Homo sapiens: one gene and its partner. The protein of the gene in region 2 interacts with the protein of the main gene of each other region in a pairwise test. Each region holds a gene or a part of one and is shown on either strand. Other genes may lie near its edges.

The links.
Region 1: the proteins of ZNF250 (region 2) and SPECC1L interact in binary tests that used the Homo sapiens proteins (3 or more experiments, as listed by UniProt).

The regions. Positions count from the first base shown.
Region 1 is NC_000022.11:24,416,035-24,419,266, reverse strand, and holds the end of SPECC1L (cytospin-A), read right to left. Parts: 3' UTR 1,529-3,232; downstream 1-1,528. UniProt on the Homo sapiens protein: Involved in cytokinesis and spindle organization. May play a role in actin cytoskeleton organization and microtubule stabilization and hence required for proper cell adhesion and migration.
Region 2 is NC_000008.11:144,890,494-144,896,050, reverse strand, and holds part of ZNF250 (zinc finger protein 250), read left to right. Parts: intron 1-818; exon of another isoform or gene 819-908; intron 909-5,557. UniProt on the Homo sapiens protein: May be involved in transcriptional regulation.

The DNA.
Region 1 (3,232 bases), on a different chromosome or scaffold from region 2:
AGCCTGAGAGGGCTGGTCAGGTGGAGTCCTCTCCTGTCAGGCAGGAGAGATGGAGTCCTCTCTTGTGCCCGGCCCAGCTCCTGTAGATGCCCAGTAAGGTCCAGACCTGTTGGGGTCAAAGCTCCTGCCAGAATCCAGATCCCCGAATCTCAGCAACCCAGGAGTCTGTCCTCACTCACCTGATGTACGGGGAAGTGGCTGCGAGCATGTTGAGACTGGTTCTGTCTGCCCCGGTCCCTCACCTAAGGGACAACCTAAAATAGAACCCAGGCTACCCCGAGGTTGCACGAAGTGCCGGCCCCGTGGGGCTGGGGCCATAGAGCTGGCCAGGCAGGGCTGCTGGGGCAGGGCGTGGCGTCTGGGCACAGGACCGCAGGCCCTTGAGGGTGCTGGAGGGGTGTAAGGGATCCTTCTGGAATCTCTCCACTCTCCCTGGAATCTCTCCACTCTCCCTGGAATCTCACAGCTTCCCCCTTCCACCTATTAAGCTGTCCCTGAGATCCTGGAACTTTGAGTCAAGGTATAAACGATGCCCTCCCCATAGGTGCTGCCCTGGGAAGCAGCAGAGCCAGCTCCAAATTGAGGGGCACAGCACTGTGGACGGGCCCCGCAGGCCCGTAACTTGGGACAGAAGGATCCCCTCAGGGCCACCCTAATCAGCATCCAAGGCAGCTGCACTGCAGGCGGGACGGATGGAGGATCTGGGAGTGACCGCCCCACCTGGGAGTGGTGGCTAAGGGGTCTGTGCTGCCCAGGACAAGGCCCAGGTGCGCTGGCAGGGACGGCAGTCCCCTGCTGACGTGTGGAGGCCGCTGCACACAGGGCCCGCCCGGCAGGCTCCATGGATGCTTGCTGACCACTAGGGCAGAACCCCTTCCGCACAGCAGAGGACACAACGAAGGGGCTGCTGAGCAGGGAGGAGCTGAGTCCAAGCCCAGTCCTGCCCCAGTCCTTTCACGCCCAGCTCCCAGCTCTACAGCTGTTGCCCACTGCCCACCCCAGGGTACCTGCAGCTGTTGGCACCCAGGGGTGCAGCTCCCAAGCACTTGCAGGTCACAGTGCAACTCCTGGCTTACTCAGGGCCAAGGCAGTTGCTGGGCTCCCAACCCTGAGGAGTCTCCACCTGGGAAGGGCATTCACTACATGCCCTCGTGTGCAGGAAGCACCACCACCATGGGCCTTTTGCATGTGACGTGGACAAGGTGGTAAGTGTTCTCCAGGCCAGCTCAGTGCATTCACAATCACTGTAGTGACTCACACCTGTAATCCCAAGGCTCTGGGAGGCCAAGGCGAGAGGATTGCTTCAGCCCAGAAGTGCAAGACCAGCTTGGGCAACATGGCGAAAAGCCCATTTCTACCAAAAAAAAAAAAAGAAAAAATAAATAAACAAACTGCTGGAGATGGTGGCACACACCTGTGGTCCCAGCTACTCAGGAGGCTGAGGTGGGAGGATTGCTGGAGCCCTGGAGGTTAAGGCTGTGGTGAGCCGTGATCGACCCCGTCTCGAAAAAACCAACAAAAAACAATGCACAGGCAAAAAAGTTTATCTGGTTGCCTCTGGGTAGGATACCTTTTTTCTTTTTCTCTATTTTATACATCCTGACAATTATTTCCAAGATGATACATGCCTCAAAACAAACAAAACCCCTCGAGACACACTCCCCAGCCCCCAGGGAAGGCATGTGTCTGGGCTGTGTAGGGGCTTCCGCTCTCCTGGGGGTAGCTCTGCCACGGTCTCTGGGGTCTTGGCATCTGTCACAGAACCCTAGTGGTTACAGGGCTCACTGTCCCACAGCCCCAGGCCACACGGTGATGTGCTGTGGCCCAGGGGAGGCCACCCTGGACTCCTGGTCAGGATCTGCCCACATGAGGAAGTGCGCCTTGGGGTAGGGCCACAGGCTGGCTCAGAGGTGCCCTTCTCTCCACAGCCAGTCCCAGGAGGGAGCTGGGTTCTGGTTTATGCGACGTCAGAGGGACGGCAGGGAGTGGAGGGCAAGCTAGAAAAGCCCAAGCTTGTTGTTTCAGCCATTTTAATACATTCAAGAATATTTACTAGAACAACATTTAAACGTATCGTCGGTCCGCAGAAGCCTGGGATCGAGAGAAATAGAAACGCGACTGGCCCTTTTGCAGTAAAGCTTGTGCTTGAAGGGAGAAGAGGCAAAGTGGCTTCTTGGAGACTTCGTGCCAGATGCCACAGGACTGAGAGCATCTCCAAATGTCACTTTAAACACGTGTGAGCATCTATAGTCATTCCTAAAGCCCACAGTGTCCTAAGGATCCTATTAGACGAGGCAAAAGGCAATGCTTCTGGAACCCTCTCCCTTGCAGCTCTGCACGCAAACCTTCCCCAAGGAGGGGCCCGAGGCAAGCCTCTAGATAGGCGGGGCCAAGCCCTCCCCGTGCCCACCCTCTTTCCCTGTTGCTGACCTCAGGCCTGATGCTGGACCCATGAGACTCCCAGAGGGAAAACACAGATACAGCCCATCCATCCATGGCCACCTTCCTCCAGAAGATCCTGGGGACCCCTACCCCCCCATCCCATGAGGCACCAGGGCTGGGCTCGCATGGCCAGCAAGGGATAAAGTTGGGAACTGCAGACCAGGGGAAGCCCCCTCATTCTTAGGGCAAAACAGCCCCTGAAGGACAAAATAAATAAACCAAACCATGACCAGACAGCTGGATCCGGACAGGTGGAGTGGCCTCTGTGAAGGCAAATGAGAGCAAAAGTGGGAACTGAGGACACCTAAGTGGAGAGACACTTAAAAACAGTAATTCTCACATGAACATCAGTGGCTCATGCCAACAGCAGAGCTGGCCATCAACAGAGGAACAGCAACAAAAACACAACTCAGACAGGGGGCGGGACGGGGCCAGGAGTCTGCGGGGGTCTCTGATATGCTTTGTGGCATGACTTTGCTTGCCTGGCCTCTCCTTTCTTAGCTGAAAACAGGCATTTCACCAAAGGGCATCCAGCCAGCGGCAGCAGCCTGAGCTCCCAGGCTGACATCTGGGCAGGGCTGATGGGCAGCTTCTGGCCATCTGGTGACCAGGTGTGCCGCCAGCTGCACCCACATGCACAGCCCCTTTCCTAATAACCACATTCTAGGTTACGTAGACACGTTAAACTCCTATTCTAGAACATCGTGCTTGAATGCAGACCCCTCAGCCCACAATCGGGCTGGCTGGGCCTCCTGTGAGCCCCTCATTGCATCCAGTCTGTGGGGCAGTG
Region 2 (5,557 bases):
AATCAGACTTTGTGATAGGATTTTTTTTTTTTTTTTTTTTTTGAGACAGAGTCTTGCTCTGTTATGCAGGCTGGAGTGCAGTGGCACAATCTTGGCTCACTGCAACCTCTGTCTCCCAGGTTCAAGCTATTTTCTTGCCTCAGCCTCCTGAGTAGCTGGGATTACAGGTGCCTGCCACCATGCCTGACTAACTTTTTGTATTTTTAGTAGAGACGGGGTTTCACTATGTTGGCCAGGCTGGTCTCGAACTCCTGACCTTTTGATCCGCCCGCCTCGGCCTCCCAAAGTGCTGGGATTACAGGTATGAGCCACTGCGCCTGGCCGATTTTTTTTTTAATTAGCAATATGTGATGGTCATCTTTCAATAGAGACCTGATACTGCATTTTGTGTGATGCTTTTCTAAGACTCACCCCAGGTGGCAGTCTTTCCCTTTCACTTCTCCTTGCCACACACTTGTTGACAGCCTGGTATTGTCCTTTGGAGTATTTCCTCTGTGTGTTAATCAAATAGATAATAACACCTTATCCAGCAGCATCCTCCTCTGAGCCAAGCCTGTTCTTAGCGCTCTCCTCTCACCAACCACATGATCTCCAGGCCTTCAGAGGAGTGTGTCATCTGGATTTATAGGTGGGGCCTCAATGCAGCTGGCCCAAGTGAGGCAGGTGAACCAGTCCCAGGTCCTTGTGACACACATACCCTTCATGGGCTCGGGGTCATAGTTTACAAAATGAGATTTTCCCCTGCATGCTGGCCCCATGCTGCATTTTCACTCACCCATCTGGTGACCTGACACAACATACATCTTTCTCTTTAGCAGGTGTGTAACTTGTATGTGGAAGGACCAACGTAGCATTTGCCTCAGCAACATCCTTGAATCTGCACCCTCACCCACATCCATTCTTATCAGGTACCCACTATCCAAGGGCCAGTCTGATTTGCCTAAATACTGCTAGGTCGCCTTCTTAAGAGTATGAGAAACTCCACTTTCCCATGCCTGCCAGTTTAAAGTGTTGACTCCGTACTTGGCTATTACAGATGGCATAAAGTGTGAGCTCATTCCTCTTCATTCATTTATTCAACAAACAGGCCGGGTGTGGTGTTCTCAGGCCTGTAATCTTGACACTTTCGGAGGCCAAGGAGGGAGGATCCCTTGAGCCTAGGAGTTCAAGACCAGTCTGGGCAACACAGCAAGACCTCGTCTCTACCAAAAAAAAAAAATTAAGAAATTATCCAGGCATGGTGGTGCAACCTGTATTCCTAGCTACTTGGGATGCTGAAGTGGGAGGATCACCTGAGCCCAGGAGTTGGAGGCTGCATTGAGCTGTGATTGAGCCACTGTACTCCAGCCTGGACTACAAAGTGAGACCCCGTCTCTAAGAAATTAATTAAAAGTTTAAAAAAGTACATTGCCTGGCAATTTGTAATCATTAGCCTAGAAGTAATTAAAAAAAAAAAAAAAAGGTCGACCACTGATTACTCTGTTGGGCCTGCTTCTTGGTCTGCTGGTGCAGGAGAAAGGGATAGGATGAGAGCTGGGTGAGGCCAGGGCTGCTGCGGTGGGTGGGGCAGAGGTCTCTAAGAGTTGGATGGGGAGCACAGGCCAAGGGATAAAGGGCTGCAGGGCTCTGAGGAAAATCACAAAGTTTGGGGCATGCCCATAGGAGCCAGTGGGGTCCTGGGAGGACCTTGGAGCAGAGGACAGTCACTGTGTTCTCACAGGAAGGTAGATGGAGGGGCTGGGCAGACAGACGGTGCTGGGAGTCTGTCTGCCCAGATGGGAGCTGCCGAACATCTAGGGGTGGTTGTCATGGGGCAGGGAGGGCGAGATGGGCAACATGGTCAGGTTCTGGATGTGCTTGGAAGGTGAATAGAAGTGTGGGAGTGAAGAAGGAAGGAGGCTGATGCACAGGCTCACAGACCAAGCTGGGGGTAGAAATGATGGTAGAGGGGGTGCTTGGTTTGGGATGTTAAATGTCTGAGATGCTATGAGACACCCATATTGAAAGGTTGAGTCAGAGGGAAGGGGGATCACGAGCTCAAGTGTACCAAAAGAGCTACTGGGCTCAACTGACTTTTCAGACTCACAGGACAACCATGCCTAGCAGCAGCTTCTCGGAAAAGCTGGCCAGCATCATCCAGCAGCCATCCAGGGAGTACTGAGGTGCATAAACACAAGATGCAGGTAGGAGGAGGAGTTAGCCTAGTCGAAAGCCTCGTGGTCATACAAGCCAGCACCTCCTGTGTCAAGAGAACTGGCTGCAAGACCTGCTAGGGAGGCCCTGAATGTACTTCCTGTGGTTGTTCATCATTGAGTCACAGCCCAGGTGTGATTGGTCCGTAGAGAGAATGACCATCCACCTCTGCCAGGTTTCCAGGGGACCAGAGCTGTGCATTCACCCAAGGTCAAATTCGCATGCAGGGCTAGGCGCAGTGACTCAAGCCTGTAATTCCAGCACTCTAGGAGGCCAAGAGGGGCATATCACTTGAGCTCAGGGGTTCGAGACCAGCCTGGGCAACATGGTGAAACCCCGTACCTACAAAAAGTACAAAAATTAGCCGGGCATGGAGGCAGGTGTCTGTAGTCCCAGCTACTCAGGAGGCTAAGGTAGGAGGATCGCTTGAGCCTGGGAGACGGAGGTTGCAGTGAGCCTAGATCATGCCACTGCACTCCAGCCTGGGTGACAGAGCGAGATTCTGTTTCAAAATAAAGAAATGGCAGATCTGTGCGCTGGTGGGTGACCCATGGAAAGGGTCAGGGTGTGGCAGGAGAGAAGGCACTTCTGCCCTTGAGGGTAGGCAGATGTCAGACAGGGGGACCAGGAGCACATGAGGCCACTGTTAATGCTCACACTTGGTCTTCATCTTAATCCAAAATTGGTTATTGTTGGGCTGGGCGTGGTGGCTCATGCCTGTAATCCCAGCACTTTGGGAGGCCAAGGCGGGTGGATCACCTGAGGTCGGGAGTTCGAGACCAGCCTGACCAAGATGGTGAAAACCCATCTCTACTAAAAATATTTAAAAAATTAGCCGAGCGTGCTGGTGGGTGCTTGTAATCCCAGCTACTCGGGAGGCTGAGGCAGGAGAATTGCTTGAACCTGGGAGGCAGGGGTTGCGGTGAGCCAAGATCACCCCATTGCATCCCAGCCTGGGTGACAGAGCAAGACTTCGTCTCAAAAAAAAAAAAAAATTGGTGGCTGGACACGGTGGCTCACGCCTGTAATCCCAGCACTTTGGGAGGCCAAGGCGGGCGGATCACCTGAGGTCGGGAGTTCAAGACCAGCCTGACCAACATGGAGAAACCCTGTCCCTACTAAAAATACAAAAAAAATTAGCTGGGCATGGTGGCGCATGCCTGTAATCCCAGCTACTTGGGAGGCTGAGACAGGAGAATCACTTGAACCCAGGAGGTGGAGGTTGCGGTGAGCCGAGATCTCGCCGTTGCATTCCAGCCTGGGCAACAAGAGTGAAACTCTGTCTCAAAAAAAAAAACAAACAAAAAAATTGGTTATTGATGTATCCCATCTGGGTACACACAAGTTACTAAAGGAACCACTGATTTCCTGCTGAACTAAAATGTAACATTTTTGTTATCTTCCAATTTCCCACATACCTGTCTGGCTTCATCTGTTCCTCTGTCAACAACTTGTTGGTTTAATTGCAGCGGCTTCCTACCCACCCTTGGCTCTGATTCCTGGCAAGGCAGTCCCCACCCTCTGTTCTTTCCAGTTAAATTCTTGGCTATTCTCTAGCATCCATTCTTCTTATGAATTCTCAAGTAGTTGTAGTCATTCCTTTAAAAGACTTCTGTTGGAATTCTAATTAGAGTTGCATTGCGCTAACACAGAAGTGTGCTCACACACACATTTGGAGGGAATGGGCATTTTTGGAGAACAGCAGCACGGGGGAGGGTTGAAAGTCAGTCTCTCTCCAACTGTGTTTCCCTGTCCTGTTCTTCAGAGGCAGGCAGTTAGTTTATTGTGTATCTTCCTGAAAGTTGTCTGTGCAAATATATACATGTATCTGATGTGTGTTTTTTTTGTTTTGTTTTGAGACAGAGTCTCAGCTGAGATGATCTCAGCTCACTGCAACCTCCACATCCTGGGTTCAAGTGATTCTCCTGCCTTAGCCTCCTGAGTAGTTGGGATTACAGGCACCCGCCACCACACCCAGCTGATTTTTGTTTTTGTTTTTGTTTTGAGATGGAGTTTTGCTCTTGGTTGCCCAGGCTGGAGTGCAATGGCATGATCTCGGCTCATCGCATCCTCCACCTCCTGAGTTCAAGCAATTCTCTTGCCTCAGCCTCCTGAGTAGCTGGGACTACAGGCGTGCACCACCACACCCGGCTAATTTTGTGTTTTTAGTAGAGACGGGGTTTCCCCATGTTGGTCATGGCTGGTCTCGAACTCCCAACCTCGGGTGATCCGCCTGCCTCGGCCTCCCAAAGTGCTGGGATTACAGGCATAAGCCACTGCACCCGGCCTGATTTTTGTATTTTTAGTAGAGACGGGGTTTCACCATGTTGGCCAGGCTGGTCTCAAACTCCTGACCTCCGGTGATGTGCCTGCCTCACCCTCCCAAAGTGCTGAGATTACAGGTATGAGCCACCGCGCCCACCTATATCTGATGTTTTATAGACACTGAGATTATGATGTCCCTTGACTTCTGCCCCCAGCCCTGACACCTATTTTGTCACTCTTAAAGCACCCTGTTTGTTGTGGTGCCCATCTGAGCCAAGCATGTGAGGGGATTGGTTGCTTTGTTATACCACGTTTTTCTGGAGTGATCTACCACCTTTGGTCACCTGGTTGGTTTCTGTATCCCTGTCACAGTATCTTCTTTTTGATGCTCCAGAAGACTGCGAACCCTATCCTGTACAGGACCAAATGTGTCAGGAAAGCTCTTGCCCCGCTCCCCCTTTTTCCCAGCTGTTTGGGTGTGTGTCAGATACCTTTGCTTACCTTGTCCTGTTACGTTCCAGCACCAGCCCCACTACCCCAAGCATCCCCTTCTCACTTGATGACAAGTCTTCCTTCAGCTGCTCAGACCAGATCCCTAGGCCACTGTTGACTCAGTTTGTCCAGAACTGACCACTTCCATGCCTCCCCTTCAAATACCTGGTTGAACCTGGTGCCACATTGGGGCACTAGGGCTGCCTAAGGGTGGGGTGAGGGGAGTCTTATTGTCACCCTGGTGGCCAAGGCTTTCTTAATTGGGAGGGTGTTTGGGGAAGCAGCTTGGCCTGATGCCTGTATCCCCCACATGACTTGCGGACAGTCTGGTACTTGTGTGAGGGCCTCAGGTATAGAACACACAGAGCCTTGGTGAGCTGGTATCCTTGTGTATGGCAGGACCATGGGCCGGGACCAGGGTGCAGCAAGTGCCTTGCACCTGGTGTTCAGAGAGCCCAGTACTAGCTGGGCAGGCCCAGGAACTGTGTGTTCAGGGCCTGGACAGGCTCCTGAACCATAGGGTCAGAGTTCATGGGGGAGGCAAGGCAGACCAAGGCTGCAACAGTAGCAGCTCCTTGCACCTGACCTCAGTGTGCCCCTCAGTGAC